Regions from separate parts of the Homo sapiens genome. Here all the other regions are linked to region 1. Evidence: fine-mapped expression QTL. A gene starts in region 1. Each other region holds a variant in brackets. All regions are shown on one strand. Distances are between the middles of the regions.

What was found. PIP is the estimated chance that this variant, and not a neighbour inherited with it, causes the effect.
Region 2: its variant is fine-mapped to the expression of FUT8 in whole blood (INTERVAL, PIP above 0.99).
Region 3: its variant is fine-mapped to the expression of FUT8 in whole blood (TOPMed, PIP above 0.99).
Region 4: its variant is fine-mapped to the expression of FUT8 in whole blood (TOPMed, PIP above 0.99).

The regions. Positions count from the first base shown.
Region 1 is chr14:65,408,108-65,416,213 of GRCh38, forward strand. FUT8 (fucosyltransferase 8) reads left to right here and starts at 4,623. Exons shown (of 11, transcript NM_001371533.1): 1 at 4,623-5,107. It overlaps FUT8-AS1 (FUT8 antisense RNA 1), which reads right to left and starts at 4,510. Exons shown (of 1, transcript NR_024334.1): 1 at 2,485-4,510. RefSeq lists enhancers at 3,802-4,121, 5,364-5,928 and silencers at 4,662-4,821, 5,122-5,241, 5,252-5,441.
Region 2 is chr14:65,430,396-65,438,501 of GRCh38, forward strand. All of the region lies in intron 1 of FUT8 (fucosyltransferase 8), which reads left to right. Among named protein-coding and RNA genes, the nearest start is that of FUT8, 22 kb to the left of the region's middle. The variant C/G (reference allele first, on the strand shown) is at 3,320.
Region 3 is chr14:65,924,418-65,932,523 of GRCh38, forward strand. No RefSeq gene overlaps it. Among named protein-coding and RNA genes, the nearest start is that of LINC02290, 180 kb to the right of the region's middle. RefSeq lists an enhancer at 4,581-5,118. The variant G/A (reference allele first, on the strand shown) is at 3,693.
Region 4 is chr14:65,248,989-65,257,094 of GRCh38, forward strand. No RefSeq gene overlaps it. Among named protein-coding and RNA genes, the nearest start is that of LINC02324, 31 kb to the left of the region's middle. RefSeq lists an enhancer at 6,485-6,986. The variant T/C (reference allele first, on the strand shown) is at 4,350.

The DNA.
Region 1 (8,106 bases):
AATCTCAGTGGCTTAAACTACAAAGGTGTATTTCTTATTAAAACCAGATGAAAATGGGAGGCAGGCTGCTCTACCTTGTCCTTTTTTTTGGAAGTTAAGCCGAGAGAGGCTTTACCGATACTTTCAAGATAATACTGGTCTTGAGTCTGGAGAAGAGTAAACACTGTAAGGACTTACGCTGGCCATGAACTGTTCTACCTGGAATTGACACATACCACTTCTGCCCACAACCCACTACAGACTGGTGGCTATAGCTAGTCAGTCACATGGTCCAGCCCAACTGCAAGGGGAGGAGGGTATCTGGGGGTGGGTGTGGAAAAATATAATCTTTTTGTATGTCTGGAAAGAGAGAGTAAGCATGATAAATCTCCTACCATATTAGGGAACCCATTTATTGGCTAATTGAGTTGCCTTTCTGTAGTTGGAGTTTTGGGTGGTTACCTAAAGAATTGGCAGATGAAAACAAAAATAAACAGCCCTATTAATAAGGAAGGACGGGAGTGAATGTTCAATTAGAAATCAATAGTGTGAACTATATGCTGCTTTATCCCAGTGGAGAAGACAGAAATTTCAGCCATGGAGGCAAGTCATAGGGAGGGATAGTCTGGCTAGTTTCATCAGTCTTTAAATCAATCACTTCATTTACTCTTGTAATGGGAAAGATTTGCTCTGGCTTTTTAATGAGTAGGTATAGAGTTTGTTTAAGGAGCTGGCTCAAAAGTGACTTAAAACACATTGAATTTGAAAATATAGATTCTTAGCTACTCAGGAGGCTGAGGCAAGAGTACAGCTTGAGGCCAGGAGTTCAAGACGAGCCTTGGCAACATTCTGCGACCTTGTCTCTAAAAAATAAAAATGAAAATATAGACTTTTTTTCCCTATATTTCATTTTTGTAGTTATTGTCAATGGTGTGTCAAGTTGGCTAGATTTATAGTTTTAGAACTGACGAACAACTAAAACTTACCTAGTCCAACCCTTTTATTTTACAAATGAGAAAACTGAGGCCCAGATGGGTAAAATGATTATCTCAAGGTCACCCCTTCTTGCTCTTGGCAATAACAATGCTGCCCTTTGGATGACTTCCTGGAAAATCGGATCCTGTAAGTGAAATGTAGCTAGAGCAACAATTATAAAACAACGAGAACAATTAACAATTATTCAGAATGCTTCCATGGCTGACAGTCAGTTGGTACACGTTGGTAGAGATAGAAAAATTTCTAAACTATTTGGTAAGTAGCTTATGCTAAGCCTTCTGAGTGCCTCAACCCCTTGCTGGAACTCCACAGATCTCCCCACCGTAATAACAGGATCCACCTCAAAGGTTTGATTTGAGAATTAAATGGTGGAGGTAAAGAGTTTTGCATGAGGCCTGGTGCTCAGCACTATTACACTTTGGCTATTATTTTTATTACAGTCATAATAAAATGGTAGTAAATTTCAAACCAGTTTCTACATGAATGTTCACAACTTAGGAAATGTGATAGCATTCACGTTCATTAACTTTGATCTAGCTAATCTCTCAATAAAATGGCCACTCATGTACTCACTTTAACTTTCATTTTGATCTTTTCCATAGTCTAAGGGTTGACTCCTTCTTGCCCCGGGACACCCGAGTCCCCATAGCTCTAGCTGATGGTTAAGAATTTGACCGAGGCTATATACAAGAAAACAATGCACTGACAAGGCCCTGTTACTTGTTGTATAACAGATCATAACGATTGTTCTGTCTAATCTTTTGTTGAACAGAACTTGTCTTTAACTTTTGGGATAAGCAAAGATGGGTCCAAAACCTAGTTTGGTGAGGGAGGGGTGGAGTAAGAGGTGGAGTACCTGTACTTACTTAAGCAACTATTACAAACTGGCAGTGATGAGCAGCAGAGGCAAGCAGTTGGGAGAAGAGAATGAGAGAGCGCAGCAACAGGGTGGGACCTGCAGCTTGTGGAAAAATGCTTTTGACACAGATACTTTCTGATGGCCAGTGATGTTTAGAACCTTTTGGGGGATTCCTTCTCTCTCAGAATTTAACCTGGCAAGAGAACGACTGAGTTCTAGGAATTTTCTTGTCTGGAGAGAGTAAAATAAATGTATTTTTTAAAAGCTGGGACTGTTATCCACACTGAGAAGAGGCAGGGTATAAAATTCCCTTTCATAAGTGAATTTCCTGGAAATTCATGATTGGCTTGGAACTTAATGTGTAAAGACTTGTTCTCAAATATCAGTTGTTTGACAGAGACCTCCAGTTTTGGGATGGCAGCTAAATCCTGAGCCTGCCTTGGAAAGGGTTTTGATAATAATGTTCCATCACAGGTGGAGAAGCACATTGATTCAACAAAGCAGACTTCAAAACCACTGAAGAATTAGTTTCTGAGTGTATTCAAGAGATACCAAAGTTATTTGTTATTTTAACGTATATTATACTGTTCTATACAAATGCACCAAATCCTGGGCAAAACATTCCTAGGACAGGTTTTTTTTTTTTTTTTTTTCAGTTGGAAGGAGGTAGGGAAAATAAGTGCTTTAATTCCTAGGATTTTGGAAGTAAAAATGGAACACCAGACAAAAATGGAATTTTTAGGCAAATGTAAAGCTTTGTACTTGGGTATCTCAAAGTATTATACAGTGTAAACTATCATGATTATTAACCAACTAGAAGTAGTTCTTTTTTTTAAATTTTATTTTTAATTTTAGACATGAGGGTCTTGCTATGTTGCCCAGGCTGAAGTGGCTACTGACAGGCACGATGTGGCACTGCAGCCTGGAACTCTTGGGCTTAAGTGATCCTTCCTGCTTCTTCTATCTTAAAAAAAAAAAGTTACGCTTGCTTGTTAAAATATTTTTAAAATGCTGTGTTTAAACTAAGAAGTAAATATCCACCCCACCTCTGACTTCTAAAAATTATCTAAAGTATGACTGGTAAGATTTTTACCTTTAATCCCACATAAGTCTAAAATTTGTGTTCATTTCCAACAACCAAAGTGTGTCACTTTTATACCAGAATTTTGTCCTGCTTATACGTTTAGTACAGAAATCTCATGGGAGAGAGCATCCATGCATTTACAAATTGTTATTGAATTATTTTATTGAATGATGACACCCAAACTGAGCTAGAACATAATTCTGGCTCTGCTAGTACATCTTCTGTGTGATCTTGGACAAGTCACTCTACTTTCCTTTCAATTTTCTTTTCTCACAGGGAGATAATCATAAAAACGACTGTAAAGTACAGCACTTCATAGAGTGCTTTTTGTTTAAAGAGCTGACAATAAATACGAGTCTCAAGGTCTAGGAAAGCCTCCCTCACAACCTGAGCTGCTTGAGGACAAGGGATTTTCTTTTGAATCAGCAGTACCTTATTTGTGTATCTGTGATAGAGTTCCTGGTACATAAGAAGGTCTCAATAAATATGTGAATTTATGAATATTAGGCAGATTGCAACCTTGACAGGCCACTGCCTCTTAAATCTCCTTTCTGTGATCTTTTAATATTTAACATCTAAAAGGCCGCCGCTACTTGCTTTGGGATAAGTATCCCCGGTATGTACTTTAAAATGCCCAAGCCTAGAGAAATGATTCTTGTCTTAAGGGCACCATTTCGCTCTCCCACCGTAAAGCGCCCCAGGCTTGGGATCTGGGTCCCAAGGCTACAGGGAAGAGTTTGGAACGGGAAGCTCATCTTCCGGCCCTCTGATTGGCCGGCTCGCACTCCACTCACGCGGCGCGCAGCTCTGATTGGCCTCGGCGGCACCCCTCGTCCCGCGACTACTTTGTGTGCTGGGGCGGCGCGCTCCGGTCCTCCCGCTCAGCTGGCGGTCTGGGCTGCTCTGGGGCAGCCCTTCGGTCCACTGCTCTGCATCGCGGGCGCCGGGAATTTTCCGAGTCCGAGCGGGTAGGACGCATCCTAGGGCAAAGCCTCTCCCCTCTCCCCGTGCTGTTCTCTTTCCCGTACTAAATAAACTTCCGCCTCAGAGGGGCTGTCGCAGCCGCGGGTCGGGAGAGGCCGGGCATCGAACTCAGGCCCTCGTGGGGGGGGTCTTTCTCTTCGAGTGAATGTGGAAACAGCTCTTACAAGATAAAGTAGGGCTTCGCTGAGTCTCCTGGGGGAGCGATGCCATTGTAGGATCGCGCTGGAAGCAGCAGTCAAGCGGCCAAATGCGGGCTGCAGGGGCTGAGCAGCAGCAGCGCGCACCCCTAAAAGTAGCAAGGAGCCAGCTTCAAAACCTCTAGTGCGGGTGCCCCCTAGGGCCGCCGACTGAGCTGGCACGGGCCGGTCCATTCCCGGCGCTGTAGGGAGCACAGCATTCTCTGGAGGCGAGTCTCCTCCCGGGATCCAGGATCCGCTCGCGCCCCGCTCAGCCTCCGGCCTTCAGGCGGTAGAGGGCGGCCTACGCCTGTGTGCGAGCCGGAGCCGGCGTGCGCAGCCGCTGCCCTGCTGGAACTGTGCCGTCCCGCTGTGGCCCGCGGCTCTGCTAGGCGGTGGATGCTGCTGCTACGCTCTCCACCGGCGCAGCGAGGAAGGGGGCGGGGAGAATCCCTGGCACATGCCAGGGTCGCCGTAGGTGGCAGCGGCCGGCGCATGCGCGCCCTCTCCCAGAAGCCAGGAACGCCGAGGGGCGCGCTCCCCCATTCGCGCGCGCACGCCGGCGCTGGCCGAGGCTTCCCCGCCTGCGCTCGTTGTCAGAGCCGCTCCGGCGCGTGCGCGCGTTATCTCCGGCCGACCCGAGCAGCCGGTTCCCTCCTCTCCAGGCCCCCTCCCCATCCCACCCCCGCCGCCTGGCCCCAGCCGACCCGTCCCTTCGTCTCCCCGCGGAATGGGGCCGGCACTGCTCAGGGTCGCGCGCCCTGGACCCAGCTCGCTCTCGGTCTCGCGCTGTCAGCGACTGCCCGGCTCGCGCCGCCTCGCGCTCTGCCTCAGTCAGTGGCGCCGAAGGCTCCGTTAAGCGGCGGCGGCGGTTCCTGTTTCCGTTTCTTCCTCTCCGTTCGGTCGGGAGTAGCATCCTCCACTCAGCCACCCTTCCCACTCCCCCATCGTGGGGCAGCTGCGGCTGAGGGCTGTGGCTTTGGCAGCTGCGACGGGGAGCGGCGGAGACCGCCTCTGCTCCCGCCTGGGGTAAGGGGGCGTTTTGGGAGCCGGGCCCCGCGCGCCTCGGGGTCTTGGGCTGGGCTGCGCGCGGGATCTGAGGAGGCTCCGCGGCTGTCCCTGCTCGTTCACCCGGGCCTGTTGCTGCAACTGCTGCCGGTTAACCAGCGGCTCTCGGAAAAGTGGGGAGGGAGCCCCCGGGACGCTCTGGCGGATGCCTTGGCGCAGCCCCGGGGGCGCGGGCAGAGGGTGAGGGGCGCCCGCCTCTCCAGCCGGGACGCGGAGCTGCGCCGCTGCTGCCCTCGGCGTCGCGCATCCTTGCCTAGGGCAGGGGCCAAAGCCTAGGGAAGGAGAAGGGTTGGGGGCGGGGGTGGGAGGTGTCCGTCGTTTCCCCTCCACACCTACCTTCCCTTCGTCAGCAGCTCGGTCCCTGGAGTCGCGGTTTGTGGGGAGGAAGATGCCCGTGCGTTATGGGCTCTTTCTGAGTGCTGCTCGGGCTAGAAAGCAGGGAGTGGACCCTCACAAAGATCCGCGAGGGACTGATGCAGGGCAGTTAAAGGCTTGAGTGCAGCTGTACTCCCTTTTGATGTGCAAATGACGAGCTGGCGGCTTTTGAGTATCAACTTATTTGGGAAGGTTAAATGAGTCCATATTTATCAGTTCTAGGAGGTTTGTCCTGCAGGATTGAGTGGGTTGTCGGGTGCAGCACCTGTTCTTTCTTCACAGTGGGGATTGCAATCTTCAGAGACGCAGTGTATTTCTTAAGTGGCAGTGTCATGCTTAGGGTTTGTCCCGGATGAGCTTTTATTTTAGCATTTTGCCATATAATATATAGATTGAGGCCTTGGTTAAAGGCACGGACAGGTGGTGTTTTTTTCCTTCCTATGTTTTAATTATTCACAGTTTATTTAAACCCACTCAGGAAGGTGGACCCAGAAAAGCCAAATTCTGTAGTACATAACCCCAAATTTCAAGGTTTTGCGGAACAAATTCAACACAAGTTTTGTGTCAGTTTAGAGTTAAACGCATCTCAAGTAACTGACTTAACTGGCTTGCCTCTATGAAAACTGTAGGCAGGTTTCATTATAGATTTTTTTTTTCTTGTTATTCCGGCGGTTAGGTGCATGTTTATTTTCTTGATTAAATTTACATTCTATGTTTTATGACTAATTCTTTAAATAGGTGCATCATATAGAAAGTATTTTAGGAGAGAAATTATTATTTAAGCACTACAGTATATCAGATATATGAGAAATAATGGAGTTGTAGTCTCTGCTCTTTAAAATAACTGTAAAAACATCTTAAAACCCTATGCCAAATAATAAGGCCCTGTACCTTGCTGTCCTTGTGAAATCTGGTATGTGTATAGAAAATCTTAATTACTTGATTTGTAAATACTACAGTAGTATTGAAAAGGTGGGAATTCAAGCATTTGTAATTGTGATTTCACAGGTTTAGTGTGTAAAAAATGCAGGGAGTTAGAGATGAATAGGCTATAAGACACGTACAAAGGTAGTTCCAAGACATGGATTTTCTTTTTGCTGCCTTATAAATTGAGAATTCTATTTGAATTCAAGAGCTGAACAGCTGGAATGAAACTTGCATAGATTGCAGAAACAGATGCAAAAATGTATCTTTGGTCAAGTTGTGAGTTAACTTGAAGAGTGTCTTGTGTAATAGGATAGTGATTCAAAATAATTTCCATAAAGTACGGCCTTATATAGGTTATATTTTGAGGATATTTTTGAATTTAAAAAGTCACCTGAAGTTGTTTTCCTACAAATCAGTTCTGTTTAAGATGTATGGAATCGAAAAAAACAAAACAAAACTAATTCTGATTACATCCTGCATTGTTTTGTTGCAAATTCTTACCAGTTATTTTTACGCAATTGGAGTGTCCTTAAAAGTGGTGAATCTTAAAATTTGCCAGTGGATTGGAAAAAACTGTTAACTTATTATTTTTAAAAATGCTGTTATATTAGTACATTGGTCTGGAGGGGGAGCTAGTGCCAAAGCAAAGTATAGCTTAATAGCTGTTTGAACTTTTAAAACACCCAAAACCAGATTTTTATGACCAAAAGAAACATAAATTTTTAATTAAAAGAGTAGGAAATTGATGTGGGCATATATATGTACATAGTTATTTGTGGAGTGAATATATTGTGTATTACAAATTAGTTTAAAAAAGTCTTTTCATGCGCTGCAATAATGGAAAGCTAAATGCTTAAAGATTTATTGGATTTCTCACTTAAAAATCTCTAAAATGTACCCCCAAACTTAGAGTATGTTATAGTATTTTCTTAACCTTCTTGTCCTGTTCATCAGAATCTAAGGCATGTATTCTTGACCCATTGTACATGTTGTGTGTTCTTAAATTTTGTTTTTATAATAGCTACAATCCTAAAATTTCAAAAACGAAGCTTCAAGTAGAATCTTATATGGGCGAAGGTATTAATTGTGTGGTAAGCTAGGTATTTATCAAAAGTAGATATAATTCCTTTTTTTTTTTTTTTTAAAGTAGAGATAATTCCAATAAAAAAATGGACCTTTTAGACATCTGGAGAACAATATCCCCAGGTCACTTAACCCTTATCTCCTGCAGTATAATGCAGTGCGTCCAGCTGATCTACCAAATTGAATGTGTGCCTTTGAATACGAAGCAGTTGTTTTGTGGCCTGTGGCATTTCATTTAGGTTTCTAAGCTGTAATAAATTAGTATGTTAATTTACTTCTTTCCATTCACATATTCTTTAAATCCAAGCCTAGAAACTGATAGTTATATGTATATTAAAATCATTGGAATATTGGTTTTTTTGCAGATAGTGTTTGGGCTGTTTATTATCCATAGCTCTTCATTATGTAAATAGAATCTCAATGCTGATAAAGTAAATAGATTCTTCCATTTCATTAATGGTTATTTTTGATTTATGATAAACTGCATTTAATAAATCTCTTGATTTAGTTAAATGGTGGATACATCATTTCATATTATAGCAAATTGATAAATATAAAAGAAAGTTTTACAATCA
Region 2 (8,106 bases), 22 kb after region 1:
TATAAAATACTGAAATATGAGTTGTGTAATTGGAAAAATGTCAATGTAAATGAAAAGAGACACTTTTTCTGTTCTGAAGCTTCAAAATATTAAAGATCATCGTTCATATTTTCCTGGGGAATTTTTATTTTTAGTCATAATAGTAAATGAGCAGCCGTCAGAAGATATAGCCATTTCTAGGTTTAGAATTCCTTTTCTTTATATAGTTCTCTTGAATACTTGTCTTTAAGAAAATAGACATTAAGGATTTCTTGTGTAATCAAATACTACTTTGATATTTGTACAGAGCATGAGAGCAAGACTAGAACCACATTAAAGCAGGAAGAATAATTAAAAGTTTTGTAACATAGCAAAGAATAGATGGGGTAATTTACAATGGAAAAGTAGACGTACAGAACATCATTAGATGGGATATAGAAAGCTCTCTTTAAAAAAGGGATATCAGATCAAATAGACTGAAGAATTTGTATCCTACAAGTTAAGTAAAAAATGAGATGAGCAATTAATGAGAAAATGTGCTCTAAAATACTTGGTTGCATTGATTGGCAATTCTTTTCCACTTCCTATAGGGGCTATTTCAGACCTTTTCTACTAATTTTTTTTTTTTTTTTTTTTTTGAGACAGAGTTTCACTCTTGCTGCCCAGGCTGGAGTGCAGTGGCGCGATCTCGGCTCACTGCAACCTCCTGCTCCCGGGTTCAAATGATTCTCCTGCCTCAGCCTCCGGAGTAGCTGGGATTACAGGCATGCGCCACTATACCCGGCTAATTTTTTTTTTTTTTTTTAAAGTAGAGACAAGGTTTCTCCATGTTGGTCAGGCTGGTCTCAAACTCCCAACCTCAGGTGATCCACCCTCCTCGGCCTCCCAAAGTGTGGGATTACAGGTGTGAGCCACTGCGCCGGCCTTTTTTTTTTTTTTTTTTTTCTCTCAAATGAGACAGGGTCATGCTCTGTTGCCCAGACTAAGGGGAGTGGCGCAATCCCAGCTCACTGCAGCCTCAACCTCCTGGGCTCAGGTGATCCTCCTGCCTTAGCCTCTGGAGTAGCTGGGACTACAGGCATGCGTCACCATACCCGGCTTTTTTTTGGTATTTTTTTTGTAGAGGCTGGGTTTTGCCACATTGCCTGGGCTGGTCTTGAACACCTGGCCTCAAGTGATTTGCCTGCCTCAGCCTCTTAAAGTGTTGGGATTACAGGCGTGAGCCACCACTCTACTTCTTCCTAGGGCCTGATTCCAGTGTACTGCTCTTAGACTTTGTAGGTTCACTTTTTTTTTTTTTTTAATGTAAGATCAAGACTATCCAACAGAAGCTTCTTCAGCTTTGCTTTTCTCTCTCTCTAAATTGTGTAAGTTCTGTCTCCCATTTGGTGTCAGGGATATGCAATATGCCCTTTAGGTTTTCATGGCTACCTCTTTTATCCCTTCTACTGTTAGAATGTATAGGATCATTAATTAACTCTTTTATCATTTTTATTTTAATCTTCCCTAGCAACAATTTAATGGCTTAAACAAAAACCTTTCCTTATTATTATTATTTTTAAATACTGTGCAACAGGCCAAAGGAAAAAAAACAATTTATGTCTGTTGTTTCAATTTGGTTACCTTATTTTTTACTAAAACTGTTCTTTCTGTTGTTACCAGTGACCTTCTGAATTGCCAAATGGGGATTCTTCAGTCTTGTTGCTTCAGATTTAACACTGTGAACCACTTTTCCTCCTCCCTTCTCCTTATAACTTTGCTGTCCTCTTGGCTCATTTACAAAGTCAACTTGTTTCTCAAGTATTTGCCTTACATGTTTTTCATTCTCTAGATTCTTTTTCTTGAAATGTTACCTATTCTTTTGGCTTTAGTGAGAATCTCTTCCAGGTGACCCCTATACTGTAAGTTCCTGAACGTCAGTTTCCAGCTGGAGATTGTCATCTAATTGTCATGCTGTCATGCTTAACCCACTCAAATTTGAATTTTCTTTTCTTTTAAAATGTATTTTTTCTACTTTCCTTTTTTTTTTTTTTAAATTATTGGCTTTTCCTTCCCATTATCCAAACTTGAATTGTGAATCATCTTTGTATTCCCCGTCAGATTCATTCGCTTGTCAAACTATCAGAGGCCTGTGAACCAGAGCAATTGCATCTTAAACAGGAGTTGGGTAAAATGAGGCTAAAACCTACTGGGCTGCATTCCCAGACAGTTAAGACATTCTAAGTCACAGGATGAGATAGGAGGTCGGCACAAAATACAGGTCATAAAGACCTTGCTAATAAAACAGGTTGCAGTTAAGGAGCCAGCCAAAACCCACCAAAACCAAAATGGCAATGAGAGTGACCTCTGGTCATCCTCACTACTACACTTCCATTAGCACCGCTCTATGACAGCTTACAAATGCCATGGCAATGTCAGGAAGTTACCCTGTATGGTCTAAAAATGGGAGACATAAATAATCCACCCCTTATTTACCGTATCATCAAGAAATAGCCATAAAAATAGGCAACCAACAGCCCCCGAGACTGCTCTGCCCATGGAGTAGCCATTCTTTTATGCCTTTACTTTAATAAACTTGCTTTCACTTTGCACTGTGGACTCGCCCTGAATTCTTTCTTGTGTGAAATCCAAAAACCCTCTCTTGGGATCTGGATTAGGACCCCTTTCCTGTAACATGTTTCTCTGTCCTGTAACCTATTTCTGGCAACCACAGAAGAGACTATAGTGCAGAAACCCTGACCCAACGGCTACCTTTGGGTAAGTGTTGGGATCCTGTAACAAAACTGCGAATTCTATCACTACAGTGTTTATCTCATTCATCTGCTTTTTTCTGTTTCATTTTTTTTTGATAACAGTTTAGGTTCTCATTACCACTAACATATAAATATATAATTATAATTCAGTAATTGCTATGATGAAGGGTGAGGTGGCAGAGGAAGTTCTAGTAGGATATGGTACATAGTGATGATTAGCTTAGCATCAAAAACAAGTAGGGGCATTCCAGGAAGACAAACTGAAGAAAGGCTTATTAGGAGTGTGCTATGTGTTTGTTGTCAACTTGTGAGACTTCTTCTTTAATCCTTACTGCAGTTGTGTGCTTTTCGTATTTGCATATGCTATTGCCTTTCTTCAGATATTGATTAAAATTTGTGAAAGAGCATGCAATGGCAGAATGACACAAAGTAACATATATCTTTATTACCTAGCTTTAAGTGAGTAGAGTGGTAAAATGTAAGGTAATGAAAAGTGAGTACTGCCTGCACTGAAGATTTAAAACCTGATATAATTTGCATTAAAAGCTGTCTTGAAGGTTTTTCACTATTTGTAATGTAAATCTTCA[C/G]TAGGCAGCTGTTCTCAGTCTACTGTTGTTATATGTGGCTTTATCTTTTATTTCTACCTCTCTTCTGTCTCTTCTCTCTCTCTCTCTCTCTCTCTCTCTCTCTCGCTGTGTTGCCCAGGTTGGAACACAGTGGCTATTCACAGATGTGATCATAGAGCACTGCAACCTGAAACTCCTGGCCTCAAGCCGTCCTCCTGCTTCAGCCTCCTCAGTAGCTAGGGCTAAAAATGTGTGCCACCAGGCTCAGCTATTTCTACCTCTTTCAAATGTGTGTGATTGCCCTACAGTGGGGTTGGGTAATATCTTGATATTAGTAGCCACTAATACTGAAAATAACTGAAGGCCACAGCAAGTAAAGAGAGAATTTACTATTTTTGTTTCCTTAGAGAAGCCAAATATTTTGTGATTTTAAAATGGGAAGCATTAAAAACAACAATTCTAAAATGCCTTATACAGAAAGGTGATTTATTGGCTATGTAAATAGGAAGAATAGAGATGGAGAAGTCCAGGAACAACCAGATCCAGGAACTTAGATGCTGTCTTCAGAGTATTCTAGCTTCATTTTATTTTTTCTCCTGTTGGCCTCATTTTCTGCTTATGTTAGAAAGCTTCTTTCATGGCAAGGATGCATGGCCTCAGACAGCTGAGAACTTAGTTCCCTAGGATGGCCTCTGACAGGCTTATCTCTGGGCTAATCACTGTGGGGAATTGTCGTTGACATTAACATCAGAACCACACAAATCGGGGGTAGTGTCAGTTCCCCAGAGGATAGATGTTGTTAACCAGAGAAATAGGGAAAAGGAATTTGAAGTAGCAAAAACAATGTAAAGCCATTTCAGAGGCAGAAGAAAGAAAAGGCAATAGTAGACACAGTGAAAGAGAAATACTTACATAGGAGAGAGAAGCAGGGAAAGGGAAGGGAACTAGAATTTAAGAATTCAAAACTAAGAATTTACTGTGTGGTAAGCCTGTGTTAAGCGTTTTACATTTTATCTTTACAGCTCAGTGGAGGCAGCTGTATTATCTCCAGAGGATAACCATTTGTAGATCTGGTAGTGAAAAGCCCCCCCACCTTTTTTTTCTTTTATCCCAATTTGGCATATTTCCTTTATTTTTTATACAACTTTTTTCATTTTTAAATTATGCATTAATACATTAAAATCCACACTGCGATACACAGTTCTATGGATTTTGGCAAATGCATATAATATGTATCTACCCTCATAATCAAGACACAGAACTCCTGCTGCCCATTTGTAGTTAACCTCTCCCCCTAAGTTCATCGCCCTGGAAAACACTGATCTATTCTCTATGGCTACCATTTTACTTTTCCGAATGTCATACACAGTTGTCACTCCTTATCTGAGGGAAATTAGTTCCAAAACCCCTTCAGATACTAAAATTCACAGATGCTCAGGTCCCTTATGTAAAATGACCTAGTGTTTACATATACACACACATCCTCCTGGTACTCCAGTCATCGCTAAATATAATATACAATGTAAATACTATATACATCGTTGTTATGTTGTTTATATGTATTATTTTTGTTGTATTTTTTTTACTATAATATTTTCTATCCATATTGGTTGAATTCTCAGATATGGAACTAGTGGATATGGAGGGCCAACTGTAAGTGACATTGTAGTTATATAGACTTTTGGATCAGCCTCTTTTACTTAGAAAATTCATTGAGATTCATTTATGTTGCGTGTATCAATAGTTCGTTCCTTTACATTGCTGAGTAGTAATCTGTGGTATGAATGTACCATGGTTAGTTTATCCATTTGTCTGTTGAAAGACGTTTAGCTTATTGCTGGTTTTTGGCAATTATGAATAAAACTGCTATAGACATTCATGTATAGCTTTGTGTGTGATCATAAGTTTTCATTTCACTTGGGTAAATACCTAGGAGCAGATTGCTGGATGATATGGTAAGCATATGTGTAATTTTGTATGAAACTGCCAAATTGTTTTCCAAAGTGGTTGTACCATTTTGCATTTCCACCAACGATGTTTGAGAGTTCCAGTTGCTCTACATCCTTACTAGCACTTGGTAGTATCTGTTCCTTTTTCTTTCTTTTTTTTTTTTTTAATTTTAGCTCTTATAATAGGTGTATAGTTGTATATCATGTGGTTTTAGTTTGCATTTTCTTACAATTGACTTTTGGTGTATTTTTATTTTCGTGTGCTTTAAGATATCTTCCCTTTTTTTTTTTTTTTTTTCTTTAAAAGACAGAGTCTTGCCGTGTTACCCAGACTGGAGTGCAGTGGTGTGATCATCACTCACTGTAGCCTCAGACGACTCTGAACTCAAGCAGTTCTTCTACCTCAGTCTCCCGAGAAGCTGGGACCACAGGTGTGTGCCACCATGTCTGGCTAGTTTTTAATTTTTTTGTAGAGACAAGGTCTCACTGTGTTGCCCAGGCTGTAAAATATCTTTCTTGAGCTGGTCCTGATGGCACAAGTGTGTAATCCCAGCTACTCAGGAGGCTGAGGCAGGAGAATCGCTTGAGCCCAGAAGTTTGAGATCACCCTGGGCAACATAGCAAGACCCTGTCTCAAAACAACAACAACAAAAACTTTTCTTTAACATTCCGAGAATGCTTATTGGCTTTAAAAAACAATGATAGTGGCCAGGCACAGTGGCTCACACGTGTAATCCCAGCACTTTGGGAGGCTGAGGCAGGCAGATCACGAGGTCAGGAGATCGAGACCATCCTGGCTAACATGGTGAAACCCTGTCTCTACTAAAAATACAAAAAATTAGCCAGGTGTGGTGGTGGGCGCCTGTAGTCCAGCTACTGGGGAGGCTGAGGCAGGAGAATGGTGTGAACCTGGGAGGTGGAGCTGGCAGTGAGCCAAGATCGTGCCACTGCACTCCAGCCTGGGCGACAGAGCGAGACTCCCTCTCAAAAAAAAAAAAAAAAAAGTTTTTTTCCAAAATAGAATAGTAAATGGCCCTGACAAGGTCTTTGACAAGCATTGGGGTTGCACACTCAACTGTATCACACAATTCCAGGGGACATCATTCACATAAAATTTTTTTTTCTTTTTTCCTACTGGAGTTGTGCAGTGTAGCAGTCTGGGCTATATATTTACAGTTATTATCTAGGATTATCAGTGATTAGGTTCCATGGAAAATTTGAGTACTACCAAATGATGCATTTAAAAAGCATTTTTCAATGTTTCTCTGAAATGAAATTTTTGTCCAGGAGCTAGTTCTGAAGAAATGCCCTACAGGCAGTATGTCTAATGGATCAGACCTGGGAGACATAAAGGCCTATTTCAGGTACTCAACTCTGCCATTTACTGCATGAGTGACCTTGGGCATCTTGTCTAGCTTCTTTGAGTTCATTCTTTATCAGCAAAACAGGATTGATAATCTCTCCTTTTTATAGATGTGACAAGAATTATAAATAATGCATGTAAAATATCTGATGTAGAGCAGACCTCTTCAAGTTGCAACTGCTTTTACTTCTGTTTATTAGCACTTAGTACTGATTAGCCACAGCTTTTTATCAAACAAAAGCTTAGGGTATCAGCAAAGCAGAAAGAAAAGAATTTGAAAAACAATTGAAAGCATTTACTACCTAACATTTAAAAAAATACTGAAGTAGAATTAGGAAAGAAATAAGAATTTATTGGATTAAATGTTAGCTGTTTAGTATTGTTTTTATTTTGTATTTAATAGGGAGAGAATAGAGGGCTATACTATTATATTTTCTGTACTTGGGACCTCCAAAGGTCTTAATTTGGTCTTATCACCACTAACACCACCACTGCCATCTCCATGTCATGCTTGTGTTAAAGAAAGACTTTGAAATACGTCACCTAATGTTTAGGGTCGTAGAAATGCAATTTACTGTTTTGGGACTAGAGTACATGAATTCATATTACTTGACATCATTAGTTCTTCCCAGTAAAATGAGAATATTTGAGGTCCCAGAGTATTTTATAAGGTTTTAAAAACTTCATAATTTCTTAATGTTTTTTTGTTATTACCCATAGTGATTACAATAAAATCCTTAAAACAGCAAGGAAGGAGAACCAAGGAGATTAGATGTGCTTTATGGATGCAAGGAGAGAGGTTTAGCAAGCAATGGAGTAGGGAGTAAAGAAGAGGAGTTTAGCCTGAGTTTCTGGATCTAGGAAGTAATGTAGAAGTCTTAACTGTAGAAGAGTCTTTATAGTGATAGTGATTTTTTTTCTTTGATTTTAAATTATTTCTGCTTTGGTGTTTTCTGTTTGTTGGACATGTTGGTTTCATACCTCTGTATAGTAAAGAGGTTTTAAAACTTTGACCCAAACTATTTTGGCTCACACTTTTACTTCTCATATGGGCTTTTATAATAATATGGAGAGAGGGGATAAGAAGTTGTCTAAAGTAAAATCAAAAGTTGTTTGTCCATTTCCTCTCTCAAGTAAGAATATATCAAGAATATTTCAGTCTAGCCATTTTGTAGCTTGAGATTAGAGAAGGAAAGTTTACATTCACATGTTACCTTCATCTGCCTTTCTTGTCTTTGACCTGTTACAACAGAAATTAGGCAGTTTTTTTTTTCCCCTCACATATTCATTCTCTGCTTCTCTCAAGTTAATGAAACCTAGATAGAGGGCCCAATTGCCACTTGCTGAAAGAACAAATTTCTGAAGTTCTCTTGTAGCAAGTTACTACCTTGTGACTAAATTCTGGTCAGTTAGATGTCAGTAGAAGTATTTGGTATTTCCCAGAAGTCTATTTAAAGGAAGAGCTTTACCATTCTTTATCATTTTTTCCAGCTGCC
Region 3 (8,106 bases), 520 kb after region 1:
TTCAGTCATCCAGACTAAAACTTAGGCACTTCAGACCCCCAGGATATGGGGGTCTTGGAACATATACGCCATGGATAAGGGGGATTACTGTAGAGGAGAATCTGACACCTACTTCCTTTTTTTTTTTTTAACCTACTTTTTTTTGTTTTTGTTTTTGAGACGGAGTCTTGCTCTGTCGCCCAGGCTGGAGTGCAGTGGCACAATCTCGGCTCACTGCAAACTCCACCTCCCGGATTCAAGTGATTCTCCTGCTTCAGCCTCCCGAGTAGCTGGGACTACAGGTGCACGCCACCATGCCTGGCTAATTTTTTGTGTTTTTCATAGAGATGGTGTTTCACCGTGATAGCCAGGATGGTCTCGATCTCCTGACCTCGTGATCCGCCCACCTCAGCCTCCCAAAGTGCTGGGATTATAGGCATGAGCCACTGCACCCAGCCACCTACTTCCTTTGATAGTGTTACCGGGGGTCCTTGCTCACAGAGCTCCCAAGATGGTGGCGAGCATCTTCCAAGATGGTGGCGGGCCACTTCCAAGATGGTGGCAAGCCTTGTGTTCTCTGACTTGGGGTTCTTGGCCTCATGGATTCCAAGGAATGGAATCTTGGGCCATGCAGTGAGTGTTATAGCTCTATTAGAAGCCGTGGGTCACGGAAGAGAACCGTGGAAGCCAGTGACTAGTGTTCAGCTCGATTAGGATGGACCCGGGCACTTAGCCGTGCAGGGACAATAGCAAGCCTTTAGCCCTATCAGGAGCGGCAATGGGCACCTCGCTGAATCAGGAGCACAGCGGACACCCTGCCGGATCCGGAGGGTTGGGAGTCAGCGGCAGGTCTGTGATGGTGGCAAACAGCAGTGGTGGACAGCGAGTGAACTCGAGCTGTAACAAACATGGACCAGAAGAGTGCAGTTGCAAGATTTAATAGCGTGAAATAGAGTGAAAACAGAGCTCCCATAAAAGAGGAGGGGACCCAAAGGGGGTTGCCGTTGCCAGCTCAAATGCCTGGGTTTATATCCCGATCCTTGTCCCTTCCACTGTGCTCTCGGGCAGCAGATGATTGGCTATTTCTTTACCTCCTGTTTTTGCCTAATTATCATTTTAGTGAGCTCTCCTTACTATCTGATTGGTTGCGTGTGAGCTAAGTTGCAAGCCCCGTGTTTAAAGGTGTAAGTGGTCACCCTCCCAGCTAGGCTTAGGGATTCTTAGTTGGCCTAGGAAATCCAGCTAGTCCTGTCTCTCAATAGGGCTATAACACTGGTCTTATTTGCACAGTCTCATTAAGCTGGTAGAATGGGGGGTCACAAACCCAGCAGGTCTGATTTGAAGGATTTCTCAGCAAAGCATTCACCATGCCTCAGTTTCTCCTTTATAAGATGGTAATGCCACTTCTCACCACTCATCACTTTCCATACATACTGGAAGCACTATAAAGAAGAGGCTTATAATATCACTCTTACCAACTAAGAAGCTTAAAATCTCTTTCAAGATGCTTTTCATCTGCTTTCCTTTTCTCAACATATTCTTGGAAGAGATAAACTTCTCTCTCACTTAACTTCTGTGTTTTCTAGAACTAATGAACTAATTTCCATTCATTCCAAAGACATCTTTGTATATACAAGATATGGGTCATTGGAAGGGAGGAAGAAACTATAACTTAGAGAAAGCTGTTCCCTATTACTTCCTAAATATGAAGATTTATTAGTTAAGTAATGCTAGCTGTTGTAACAGACGAATTCCCAAATATCAGTGGTTTAACACAACGGAAGTTTATTTTTTGCTCACACCTGGTGTTTCATGAGAGGCTTTCCATGATCAGTCTTGCATACACAAAAGAACCTTCTTTAGTGTCTCTACCTGTTAGATCTTCTAATAGGCCAGCACATTGGATAAGAGAGAATGAAGGCTGGAGCAGAAGGTTTATGCAGGTGAGGCTGGAAGTAAGGCACAGCACCTCTTCCTTGCTGAACACACTTTCTGCTGTCCCACTACATGGGGACTTGCTGCGATAGGAGGTATTAAAAATTGTTCTAGGCAGATAGGAAAAGCGGTCCTTGGAAAGTTTTCATCTCTTTTAAAGCAGCTCCAGAAACATTTCTTGTCTAGCAGGAAAGCCCTGGCTCTTAGAGCTGGGCAGGCAATCTTTCATATGCAAATGTTGGCCATTAGAAACTGGGTCCACCCCAACAAGAGGATTCCTGCTGCCTGCCTCCTTCTTCCCCTTGCCCCACATGTTCCTGGCAACATGGCTGCCCCCACATATCCCCACGTGTGTAGAACATTATGGCGCCCTGTATTTGCATATTAAAAGGCTAGGGTGGGAGAGTCAGTTTTTTCAAGGGCTACGTGAATGACATGCCTGGTCAAACCAATCCTCTGAGCCCTATGCAAATCAGATACTGCTTCCTCCAGCCTCTCCATATACCTGGCTGGTTTCTGCGTACTTGGGGTCCCCTCTCTCGCTTTGGAGCCGCCCCCTACCCCCCCCATCTCTGTACAGGGGAGCTGCTGCTTTCTTTCTTTTCCCTTCTTTCTTACCTATTAAACTCTCCAGTCCTTAAAACGACTCCACGTGTGTCCGTGTTATTTTATCTAATTCGACTTGAGACGAAGAACCCTGGTGTTCTTCCACTCATGGAGTTGCATCATTGCTATGGCAAAGTCTGGCTTTCATGCACAGGCTTCCTCTTTTGCCAGCACAAGGGCTGGGAGGGCTTGTAAAACCCCAACAACCTCAATGTTTGTTGCTCATTTAGACCAGAACTTCAAGTCTTAGCTGGGTGGAGTTAGTAAGATCCACAATTACTGATGAAGCTCCTTATCTCCACAAGAGAATCCTGGCTAAAGAGGATGCAGGGTCTCCGGCCAAGCACAGAGACCCCATCCTAGATTTCATTTCTCTGTTGATAAAGTGATCATTAGGATCTGTGAGTTTGGAGAGACACCTTCTTCAGTGAGCCACAATAATTCCTCCTGAAAACTGATCAGTGACATCTTTGCCAGCCAGAAGTACCTTCTGTAAAACTGAGGGAAAGGAGCCCCAAGTAACCCTCAGCTCTTTGAGTCCTCAAAGACCATCCCCCTACAGGACCTTGGCCCCAGATATTTCATATCAGATCAGCTTTTCCTCCCCGCAGGATTCTCTCTAATCATCTCTCACCACCCAAGGCAGTGTCAGCTCAGGCAAAGCAAACTAATTTTAATCTAAGGACAAGTAAAAATATAATTAAGAAGGTAAATCTATTTCCCAAATAGCATACAGTTCTCTGTTGACTATGCATTTTTTAAAGTATCTGTAAAGACAAAAGACATTCATTCATCAATACAGATACAGCTGCTCATTTGTTTGTGGAGTTTGCAATTAAATACAATTGCTTGTTTTTAAGAACCCAGCTTCTGCTGCCCAGTGAGATCTATTTTGGAGGGCAAGAGAGGAAAGAAGAATTCTAACTCAAACAGAGGGAGTTTGCAGAGGGAAACAAAACCCTGCGCAGGCACAGAATTCCTTTTAAATAGGAATGTTCATGAGAAAGACCTAGGATCTAAATTTTCCCCCAGGGTGGGGCTGCTTTTCGCTTGATGTTATCTCAGCACCTTCACTTCACTGATGAGGCCAACAGATCAAGATGAATAAGCTTTCTCAGTTGCCGTGTTATTTAAACCCACAAGCAGGCCCCTGCCCCTTCCTGGAAGGCTGC[G/A]GTGTAACACCTTAGCTGTCGCCTGGCGCGCTGCTGTATAAACACACCAGGCTCCAGATCCTTTATTTCAGCAGGTGATTCACAATGAAGGAGCGGGAGGCTGGGTCCCCAGAGCACGGAGTCCTTGCCTGTCCACCCCCCTTTTCTGGAGGGCGGGAAGCTCTTTAGTATGCCCTACTTAGCTCCAAATACAAAGAAGGCCACTCTGTTTCCAAGAAGCCATTCAGTCATAATAGATATGGTTAGAATGATAGCCCAGAGGCTGTGGGTTAGGAAAACACATTTATTAGAGAAGGATCCCGTTCACAATAATTAAGTGACACAAATGAATGCAAGTTAATGAAATCTCAGTGGGATTGAATGTGCTCAATCACGGCCCCCACCCCCTGCCCTGGGCAGCAGTAGTAGAGCATGAAGACTCAGGAAGCACAATGGGACCCCATTCTTTGGTCCTGAAATTCTCCCCATCTCCTCCCAATGCTGATCTGAGAGGTAGACCTCTCAAACTCTCCTGGAAGGTGAATCCTGAAGGAGAGGGGTGCAAGGACCTGGATTGCTGCATTCTGTCCCCTTCTGGCGTGATTCTTGGATGGTCTTTCTACACTTCAGCCTCAGGGTTTGCCAGATCCAGAATCCTCCCCAGGATATTTTGAAGAACACGAAGTGATTTTTAAAAAAGGCATTGAAACGAAAATAAAAAGCACTGAGGATGACTGCAATAATACACAATTTTATCATCCATCCATCCTTCCATCCATCCATTCAACAAAAACTTATTGGATATCTCCCTATATCAGGCACTGGGGTTATAGCAGTCAATGATAATAATAATGATGGTGATGATAACAGCAATAAGAATAATAGAACTAACAGTTGCTCCTGATGTTTTCCAGGCACTGTTCTAAGTGCTTCACCTACATGCCACTCATTCATCCTCACAACAACCCAATACTACCCAGGACAAGTAAACAAGGCACAGACCCTTTTGGGAAAGAGCATGTAGCCCACAGGTGAGGCAAGACCTCTGCAGGGAGAAAGCCAGGAGCTGAGCGCATGTGGGAGCCCTAGCCCTCTGGAAGGCTTTGAAGGCCTCTGGAGGGAGTGGCACCAGCTGAGCTGAGGCAGGAGGAGGAATGGCCTGGAGCCCAGGAGAGTGCTTAGAGGGGACTGCAGAGACCATAGTCCCTCTGGCTGGAGTTTAGGGTAGTGGTAAGAGATGCTGCGGGGTGGAGAAGAGGCTGGGAAAGACTTCCTAAAGGAGGCGACAAGTGACCTAAATGATGTGTAGAGTTGGCCAGGCAAAGGGTTTGGGGCTGGGGAGGCTGAGAGCCCTGGGGGGTCGAAAGGGAGCTGGACCACAGGGTGCTCAGCCAATGGGTCCCATCAGGTGGTGGGGTCAAGAGAAGTGGCTGGGGGGTGGGAACACGCCCACCACACAGCTTTGAAGCTGCACGCAGGAAGCTGGATGTGATTCTGGAGAGCACTCTGGCTGCAGCGTGGATCATAAATCCCAGAGGGCTAAAGGGGCAGCGATGGTGGGGATGCGACTCCTAGGAGTCTGGGTGACTGTTGAGGGCCAGGGTGGTGGGAAGGAGGCAAAAGGGAGATGATGTGTGGGATAACCAGAAAGCAGGGCGGGGAGAGAATGGGGTCCAGGGCGACTTCTAGGAACCCAACAGATCTGCAGAGCGGTGGCAGGCACACCATTGTGAGGTCTGCAGCCTTCCTCTCTGAGTTCAGGTCACACTTCCCTGACTTCCCTTTACTTACAGGGGGAGGGCTTCTTCACCAAAGGGAAATGACTGCTGCCGTGGGCTGCTCTGCTCCTTCCCTGCTCCTTCCCTGCTGTCCCCCAACTCCAACTATACCCCACTGCCCACCTTGGTCCTTGGAGTCCAGCACATACCATTGGTAGGTGTCCACATAACTCTATAGCCACAGGGGGGCCACTTTCAGATATACATTCTACATGGCCAGGCTGGGGCTATGGCCCAGGTGGCTTCCTTAGGGCCCATTTGGCCGGGCTCAGTGTCTGAGCTTTATGCGCATGCTTCCAGATCTTCTCTGACATCAAGCCATGTCATCTGTGGGCTTTTCCTTCTATAAGAGATTCTTAATCTGGGGTCACAGGTTCCTTCAGGATCTAGGGAGTCCAGGGTCACCCTGGGATTATATCTAGAGTTTTATGTGAATGTGAGGGGTTTTTGGGGAGAATGTTTATAGCTATCAGATGCTCTGAGGGATTTGTGATCCCCAAAAACTTAAGACCCATTGTTTTGGGCTCTGATTTTCAAGGTTAAAATTTTCCTGGCTAATTTTCCTTCTTATTCTCACCATCACCTCCCAATGCTAAAGCCCCTGGATAGCGTTCACCTCATCTCTTCACAGTATTTCCAGGAATTCAAAATCAGCATTTGCCTTTTAAAGCCTGTCTCCATTTTGCCCTGAAAAGCCTCCACTATTCTGCATTATGTATTTTTAAATGCTTGGGTGGGCACAGTGGCTCATGACTGTAATCCCAGCATTTTGGGAGGTCCAGGTAGGGGAATCACTTGAGCTGAAGAGTTCGAGACCAACTTGGGCAAAATGCAAGACCCTGTCTTTATCAAAACTACAAAAAATTAGCCAGGTCTGGTGGCATGCACCTGGGGACCCGACTACTCGGGACACTGAGGTCAGAGGATTGCTTAAGTCTGAAAGGTGGAGGTTGCAGTGAGCCAAGATCATGCCACAACACCCTAGCCTGGTGACAGAGTTGAGACCTCATCTCAAAAATAAATAAATACTCATTCTGCATATTTATATTTTATTGTATTAATAGAAAAAATTCTTATTATGGGTCCTTCTTCCTGCAGATCTCCATCACTTTTGAAGAGAGGCAAGCTTGCCATGCTCTTGCCTGATTTCAGGCCTTCTGACTTGGTAGACCCTTGGGAATGACAGCGGCTAACATTGGCTGGGAGCTTGTTAAAAGTCAGGCATTATGCTAAGAACTTGTATTATCTCATTTAAAACCCTTAACAATGCCATGAAATAGACATTACTGTTATCCCAATTTTAAAATAAGAAAACGGGGCATAGAGAGTATAGCAGGAAGGACGTGGCCGACCCAGAACTGGAACTCAGGTGGCAGAGTTCCAGAGCCTCATGTTAGCCTCCCACCAATCCACTGATTCACTTCATCTGTTCATTATTGGAGACGGTCACTGTCTAGCTTGCTCCCTAGCCTGGAATCAATAACTTGGAGTCAACATCATCTGAAGTCAGATCCTAACCCCTCTCACTGATGTCCCTTTTGGACAAGAGTTGTTCCACAGAGGAAGTGGTAGCTTTTGAATGATAGGAATACTGTAGCCAACATCAGTATCTCTTGTCCAGAGGTGATTTGAATGGCCAAGGAAGGTTCTGCTACTTCTCAAATAGTTTCCTAACCTAGAATTTCCTAGTATCTGAAATTCCAGCATTAGAGATTAACTCCTTTGGATTGGTTTTGTCCTACCCCACCCCACCCCACCCCAACATACACTTGAGTCTCTTAAAAAGTAGGAATCACCTGGGCATATGAATCATGGAGGCCCGTCCACTATGGCATTAGCCCTGAACGATTTTGAAATTAGAGGATGTTCAAAGAGGGAGGCAAATATGTAAAAGGATACTATTGAAGGTGTTGCCAAGGACCAGCCCTGCCTCTGCACCATATTGGAAGGAGTTTCATGGACTAGGCTCATCACGGGATCTTCTGATACTAACTCCTTAGTGCCTTGGCTTGTGCTTCTGCAGCTGAGAGAGACTGAGGAAGGACCAGCCAGGACTGTCCAAGGCTCTTGGGGAGGAAGTTCTCTTGCCTTTCTCCTTTGTGAGGTTGGGGAGCAAGTGACCTGTCAGCTCTGGGAAGTCAGCCAGTGGCCTGACATTACCTGACATTAGAAAGATCAGCTCTGGCTTCTGAGAAAGGTGATCCTATGGTTATCACAGGGGCAACATTACCCCCGGGGGGTTGCAATGCAAGTGCATGTAACTAATGGTGTAAGGACAGATAGAACCCCAAGACACTTCCCCTGGGCACCAGTGTCAAACAGCAGCTTCTCCTTTTTTCCTGTGGGAGCATCTGGACTTTCATATGTAAGAGGCTTTAGTATGGGCTGCATTGTGTCCTTCCCCACCACCACCAGATTCATATGTCCTTATAATAGAAGGAAATGTGGGCCGGGTATGGTGGCTCATGCCTGTAATCCCAGAACTTTGGGAGGCCGAGGCGGGCAGATCACTTGACGTCAGGAGTTTGAGACTAGCCTGGTCAACATGGTGAAGCCTCATCTCTACAAAAAATACAAAAATTAGCCGGGTGTGGTTGCGCATACCTATAGTCCCAGCTACTCAGGAGGCTGAGGCATGAGAATTGCTTGAACCTGGG
Region 4 (8,106 bases), 160 kb before region 1:
TCATCTGAGGTCAGGAGTTCAAGACCAGCCTTGCCAACATGGTGAAACCCCATCTCTACTAAAAATACAAAAATTAGCGGGGCGTGGTGGTACACGCCTCTAGTCCTAGCTATTTGGAGGGCTGAGGCAGAAGAATCACTTGAACCTGGGAGATGAAGGTTGTAGTGAGCCGAAATGGTGCCACTGTACTCCAACCTGGGCAACAGAGCAAGACTCCATCTCACATAAATAAATAAATAAATAAATAAATAAATAAATAAATAAATAAATAAAATATATAAATAAATTTTTAAAAATTACAGTCCTTATTTCTGTAACCAGTCACATAGTTGTAGCTTCTTTCACTATCCATTAGGTATTCCCTTTGCCTTCAGCAAGCACCTCAGATGGCATGGTTCTTTACCTTTGAAGTGACCCAAACCTTCATTCCTGAAGGGTCTGAGCCAGTCATAGTCCTGCCCGGATTGGATTGTTGTAGTTTTCCATTGACCTTAATCACAGGACATGCTTTAAGGGATCACTTGTGTTCCAGACAAACTCTTCCTTTTCTCCACTGTGGAGTAGCAGTCCAATTTCCCCTAGGTAGTCAGGATTAATTATGCCAGTCGGCACAGTAACTCCCTTCTTTGCCTGTTGATTTGGAGGCATAAGGAGTCCAAAGTGGCCAGGTGGCAGTCTCAACTTCCAGTTCAATAGAATCATTGTTGTGTCTCCTGGTGGAAACATTCCTCCCTTCAGAACTAAGACCACTAAGCCAGCAGAGCATAAGGTCATGAGAATAGGAAGCAAAAATTTTGCTAGTGGGGCACTAGTGATAATAGTGGGTGTTTCTACTCTATGATTCCTGGAGCTGTGAATCTTGGCTATGGGAAGAAGAACACCATACATTGGACTCTGGTTCAGAGCATATATACAGCCTTCTGGATAACCTTGCTGCAGACCTACAAAGTATTGCCGCTGAGCTGGCACTGTAACTGAGTCTTCAAAAGGCCATTCCATTGTACTTTCAAACCAGCTGCTTCAGGATGGTGTGGAACACGGTAAGATCAGTGAATTTCATGAGCATGGGCCCACTGCTGCACTTCTTTTGCTGTGAAGTGAGCTCCCTGATTGAAAGCAATGCTGTGTGTAATACTATGACGGAGGATAAGACATTCCATAAGTCTGCGGATAGTAGTTTTGGCAGAAGCATTGCATGCAGGGAAGGCAAATCCATATTCAAAGTGTCTATTCCAATAAGAACAAAATGCTGCCCTTTCCATAATGGAAGCCATCCAATGTAATCAGCCTGCCTCCGGGTAGCTGTTTGTTTAGCTGGAGGAACAGTGGCATATCAGGGACTCAGTGTCGGTCTCTGATGCTGGCAAATTGAACACTCAGTGGTGGCTGTAGCCAAATCAGCCTTGGTAAGTGCAGTCCATGTTGTTGAGCCTATGCATAACCTTCATCTCTGCCACCATGGCCATTTTATCCATGAGCCCATTGGGTGATGATGGGATGATTGTGGAAAGAGGCTGACTGGTGTCCATAGAATTAGTCATCCTATCTATTTGATTATTAAAATCCTCCTCTGTGGCAGGGTGCAGCAGCTCACACCTGTAATTCCAGCATTTTGGGAGGTCAAGGTGGGTGGATTGCTTGAGGCCAGGAGTTTTGAGTCCAGCTGGGCAACATGGTGAAACCCTGTCTCTACTGAAAATACAAAAAAAATTAGCCGGGTGTGGTGGTGTGTGCCTGTCATCCCAGCTACTCAGGAGGCTGAGATGGGAGAATCACCTGAGCCTGGGGAAGTCGAGGCTGCAGTAAACCTAAACCAAAATCATGCCACTGCACTCCAGCCTGGGCAATCGGAGTGACACCCTGTCTCAGAAAAATAAATAAATGAAAGGGGCCAGGCGCAGTGGCTCACACCTGTAATCCCAGCACTTTGGGAGGCTGAGGCGGGTGGATCACCTGAGGTCGGGAGTTTGAGACCAGCCTGACCAACATGGAGAAACCCTGTCTCTACTAAAAAAAAAAAATACAAAATTAGCTGGGTGTGGTTGTTCATGCCTGTAGTCCCAGCTATTTGAGAGGCTGAGGCAGAAGAATTGCTTGAACCCGGGAGGTGGAGGTTGCAGTGAGCTGAGACCGCGCCATTGCAGTCCAGCATGGGCAGCAAGAGCGAAAATCCATCTCAAAAATAAATAAATAAATAAATAAAAATAAAATCCTCCTCTGCTGAGGTCACTGTTTGGTGAGCATTCACATGGGAAACAAATATCTTCACATCTTTTGCCCAATCAGATAGGTCTATCCACATACTCTTCCCCAAATTTATTTGTCATCACTTTTGCAATTATGTTCCTTACAAGTCTGAGGCCATCCAGGAAACCACTGGCTACTATGAATCAGTATATAACCACATGTCTGGCCATTTCTCCTTCCAAATACATTGTGCAACCAAGTGCTCTGCCCAAAATTCTGTCCTAAGGACAGTGGTAAAGGGAATTCTTCCTAATGGAAGAGGGAAGAGATCGCTGCCCTGGCTGAGATGACTGCATACTCCAAGTGAACTGCCCACTCCAAGAGGTAGAAGCAAAGAGGAGACACAGGAGACTTCTAAGATCTCTCTTATTGCCCTTGAAGGCTGCAGATCCTGCTCCTTTGCCCCTGGGACCCTGGAGAGCCCCTGTCTTGAGGACCCCCAATTGCAGGTGCCTGTTTTGCTCTGGGATGCTCCTGCCTGGGTTGTAGTGCTAGAGGTGGCCCACGTGAGGCAGCAGCCTCCTGGGTCCCTGGTGCCCACTGAGCTTTGCTGGAGCAGTGGGAACTGAAGGATGATCATGTTGCAGACCCAACCAATGGTTCTGGTCCGTGGCCTGTTCGGAACCGGGCAGCACAGCAGGAGGTGAGTGGCGGGTGAGGTCCACCTCTTGTCAAATCAGCAGTGGCATTAGATTCTCATAGGAGCATGAACCCTATTGTGAACTGTGTAGGCGAGGGATCTAGGTTGTGTGCTCCTTATGAGAGTCTAATGCCTGATGATCTGAGGTGGAACAGTTTCATCCCGAAACCATCCCTCCACCCCTACCTTCGTCCTTCCATGGAAAAATTGTCTTTCACAAAACTGGTCCCTGCTGCTAAAATGATTGGGGACTACTGCTTTAGGGATGTCCCAGAAAGGGGCTGTTATGATGCAGCTGTCCACTTTTGGGTGGTGCCTGCACATTGTGCAGAACTATTACCAGGCCTGATCTCTTCTTCTGTGAACTGATCATTGGGTATTCCCAACAAGGTCATAGGTGCAGGCTGGGAGAGAGGAGGCAGTGAAGCAGAAGTAGGAATTATGGGCATTTGGGCCACTTCCTCATGTAATTTACTTGTTCTTCAGGACTTGCTTGAGCCTGACCACCTATATACCATTTCCATTTGATGATGGAGTACTGCTGTGCACATCCAACTTCATGGCTTAGTGGGTCAGATAGCACCCAGTTCATGATAGGCAGCTCAGGTCACATGGTAACTTGGTGGCCCATGGTCAAACATTCAGTCTCTACTGAGGCCCAGTAGCAGACCAAGAGCTGTCTCAAAAGGAGTGTAGTTATTTGTGAATGATGGCAGGAACTTGCTCCAAAATCCTGAAGGCCTCCACTGTGATTCACCCATGAGGGCCTGCCAAAGGCTCCAGACAGATCCCTATCTGTCACTGATACCTCAAGCACCATTGGATCTGATGGGTCATATGGCCCAAGTGACAGAGCAGCTTGCATAGCAGCCTGGACCTGTTACAGAGCCTTCTCCTTGTCTAGACTCCACTCAAAACCAGCAGCTTTTCAAGTCACTTGGTAAATGGGGCAGAGTTACACACCCAAATGAGGAACATGTTGCCTCCAAAATCCAAAGAGGCCTACTAGGCATTGCACCTCTTTTTTGGTTGTAGGAGGGGCCAGATGCTACAAGGTGTCCTTCACCTTAGAAGAGATATCTTGACATGCCCCATACCACTGGACCCCTAGAAGTCTCATTAAATGAAACCACATCCGAAATAAAACCACAACAGCAATACAACCACATCTGGTACAGCAGCTGCAGTGGGAATCATCACCTGGTTAAGTTCATAGTAATCCACTGTCATTCTCCATCTGTCTTTTGCACAGGCCAAATGGGCATGTGGAATAAGAATGTGGTGGGAATTGCCACCCCTGCCTCCTTGATGATGGCCCTACTCTCTGCAGTCCCTCCAGGAATTAAGTATTGCTTTTGGCTTACTCTTTTCCTAGGTAGAGGCAGTTCTAGTGTCTTCCACTTGGCCTTTCCCACCAGAATAGCCCTTCCTCCACAAGTCAGGGAACCAATGTGGGGATCTG[T/C]CAGCTGCTGAGTGTATCCATTTCAATTATGCATTCTGGAACTGGGGAAATAATCACAGGATGTCTTTGGGGATCCACTGGACCCACCGTGAGATGGACCTGGGAAAAAAAATCTTGAGCTGCATTCACATTAGTGATTCATAAACTGATAAGCATGAGAGCCTTTCAGGTTATAAGAAAGGGATACAAGGACGCAAAAGAGGGAATTCAACATAAATGAAGAAGGAACCTAACTCAGCCATGGGGCGAGAAGGTGTCTGTGAACTCACAGTGAGCAAGGCTGTATTTGGGAGATGGAAGTATTTTGAAGTGTTCTTTGAGGTTGACTCTTTAGCTTCCCTTCACATCAACCATGGTAATTCCATTCCCCTTGGGAGGGACTAGCTAAAGAATGGGCATGTATCCAATTCTGGCTAATGGTACAAAAAGAAGATTCTACAGGAGACTGCTGGTAAAAGCTTCCATGCTTCTGAAAAAACACGAAAGCTTTCTTTTTCTGCGTGTTATTGTGTTTGGTGCAGACGTCGTATTACCACAAAGGGAGCCAGCTGAAGGAAAAAGCCAATGTCCTGCGGAGAGAAAAGCAGAGAAATGGAGGCTGCTTGGCTCCTTGAGGACACCTTGAGCCACTCATCGTACCACACCTGGAACCCACTACTTCTAGACTAACTATTATATGAGATAATACATTTCCTTACATGTTTGAATCTGTGTTTTCTATTACTTATGGCTAAGGCATCCTAACCAACAGAGAGTATGGGACAGATTTCCTGCATTAACTGGTAGGAGCTTAGAGCTAAGATTTGGGTACTAAGGAGGTGTAACTGGTATCTTCACAGGCTGGGGGGACCAGGACAAAGGGGTCATTCATTCTTCTCTGCATGTCAGGGGAGACTCTACAACCCAGCTGAGGTAGGAAAATTGGATTTCTCTGTCTTTTGTTTGTATTTCTGTTTTGTTATTTATTTATGTATTGAGACAGAGTCTTGCTCTGTCACCCAGGCTGGAGTGCAATGTCACAATCTCGGCTCACTGCAACCTCTGCCTCCCAGGTTCAAGAAATTCTCCTGCCTCGCCAGGCACAGTGGCTCATGCCTGTAATCCCAACACTTTGGGAGGTCAAGGTGGGTGGATCACAAGGTCAGGATTTCAAGACCAGCCTGGGCAATATAGTGAAACCCCATGTCTACTAAAAATACAAAAAGATTAGCTGGCCGTGGGGGTGCCTGTAATCCCAGCTACTCGGGAGGCTGAGGCAGGAGAATGGCGTGAACCCAGGAGGCGGAGGTTGCAGTGAGCCAAGATCGTGCCACTGCACTCCAGCCTGGGCGACAGAACGATACTGTGTCTCAAAAAAAAAAAAAAAAAAAAAAAAGAAAAAGAAAAAAAAAAAAGAAATTCTCCTGCCTCAGCCTCCTGAGTACCTGGGAGTATAGATGTGCACCACCACACCTGGCTTTTTTTTGTATTTTTAGTAGTGACAGTGTTTTGCCATGTTGGCCAGGCTGGTGTCCAACTCCTGACCTCAGGTGATCCACCCGCCATGGCCTCCCAAAGTGCTGGGCTTACACGCATGAGCCGCTGCGCCCAGCCTCCGTTTTTTAAATCAAAATGAATCTAACCTTGAGCCCCCAGTCCTGTTCATTGGGCAGATTATTAATCTGTCATTCTGGAAGTGCAATCTCTCCCCTGAAATATTGTGCCTACCTGGGCAAAAGTGTGGGGGCCTCCCAACCAGTCATCAGCCGGTGATCTGCCCTAAGTTTTCCTTTGATGCCTCACATCCCTTCTGGTTTGTTGATTTTGCTGTTGCTGAGTCATACATGGGGCCCAGGAAATCTTTGGTGAGACTGGAGACTCAATGCCCAAGGCCTAAAATTTCCCCGAGATCTGGATGTCTCCTGGGGCTCTGGAAAGGGCTCCATTCTCAGAGTGAGACAGGTTTTCTGTTTTGTTTTGGTTTCTATCTTTCTGGTCTCTGAGCACTCTCCTCTGTCTTTCCTTGTCCTTCAAGGCTCCCCTCTCCCTGTCCCCCTCCCGCCTATCTCCCTCTGGGTATCTGCATCATCTCATCAGGAGCCAGGACTTTTACCCAAGGCATGAAGATCTGTTATCTTCAAACAGCTCTGCTTTCTGTCCTGCAAGGATTCGTAAGGCAAGAAAAACCAAAAAAGCTGACTTGTAGTACCTGCTTGGGAAAAGACGGCAATGGAAAAACACAGTAAACAAATTAATATCTTAATTATCTTGTCACAGGTGCCTCAGCGGAGCACTGTGACAGAGGAGCACAATAGGAGGGCTGACTCCAGGCTGAGTGGCAGCGAGCCAGCCAGCCAATGAGAGTGGGACAGGGAGAAAGAAGGTGGGAGCTGAGCAGTGCTGGGGAAGCTTTCTTGCAAACTTGCAAAACCTGCCTGGCAGCCTGAGAGCCTTGTGACAGGGATGCCTCTTTCCTATCTCAAGTCCTGAGGTGTCCTTAAACTTAGTTTTTCATTTCCAGAAGCCTTCTCGCTGTACCTTGTGGTCACACGTGGAGGGCTACGATACCTCCTCATCTCACCAGAGAGTGGGAAGTTTCAAATAAGAACATGCGGGAAAGATCTTTGAGTTGCTCTGCAGGAAGGAGGCCCTGGCAGCCCACCCCAGCCTCCTCCGTGGAGCTCACCCTCCATTCAGCCCTGGTGGTCCCCTGCAGCTTGTATCTGCCACAGCCCTGCAGGTGGCACTGGGACTCCTGGGCTTCTGGACTTGGCTCAGAGGTAAACAAGAACAGCAGATGTTCATGCAGCTTGGATTTAGATAGTATCTTCCCACCCAGAGCTGAAAAGACCTTTGAAATCATTGAGACCAACTCCCTACTCTTACAGTTAAGGGCCCAGAGGATAAGAGAAGCCAGGAGACTTGGCTAAGGTGACCTGAAGCTATAAGGAGGGACAACCAAGGCTCCTTATCTCTCTCAGCCCTCCCTTATCACCCTGATCTCTGGGTGCTGCCCCTTGATCCTGGTTGCCTCATGTGGTGCTTTTGAATGATTTACCTGTCCTTCTTGCCACTTGTGGGGCCAGCACGCCTTGCCCTTCCTGCAGATGCCTGCTGTCTCCTGGATGTTGGGCTGTCAGATGATTAACCCAAGGACAATGAAGGGTGTGCAGAGTCCCCAGACCTCAGATCTTGAGCTGGGCTCTTGCTCAGTTTTTCATCGGCATCCCGACAGCATTTGTTAAGGGGAATGGGACTGTGGGTTACTCAGAAGCCCTGGGCATTTTCCAGTTCACAGGCACCTTCTGAGCATGCTCATTTGTGACTTTCTGACCAAAACATTTCAGCCTGGAGATAATCTTCAAGTAAACAAGTATGGGGTCTTTTGTCTCCCATTGTTTTGATTGGTTTAATAACTAATCAATCATATATTCTGAGGCTGCCTTAAAATCCTCAACCATGCTGCAGGTCATTACATGTGTATAGCACTTTATAATTCAGAATACATTATTTCATCAGCTTTATGAGATTCTTTGACCATACCCATTTCACAGGTATGAAAACTGTGAGTCAGCAAGGTTAGATGACCTGCCGTTTTAGAAGGAAGAATCAGAGCCACAACTAAGATGATAGCCTGGATTCTAGTGCAGTGATCTTGTCCCTGGCCCTCCACTAGGTACAGGCTGGCTACATGGTCTTCAGTGGAGTGGGGCAGTGGAGATAGTGAGGGGAGCTGCCCACCATGGAAAAAGTGCTGATAAAACACTTGGGACTTGGC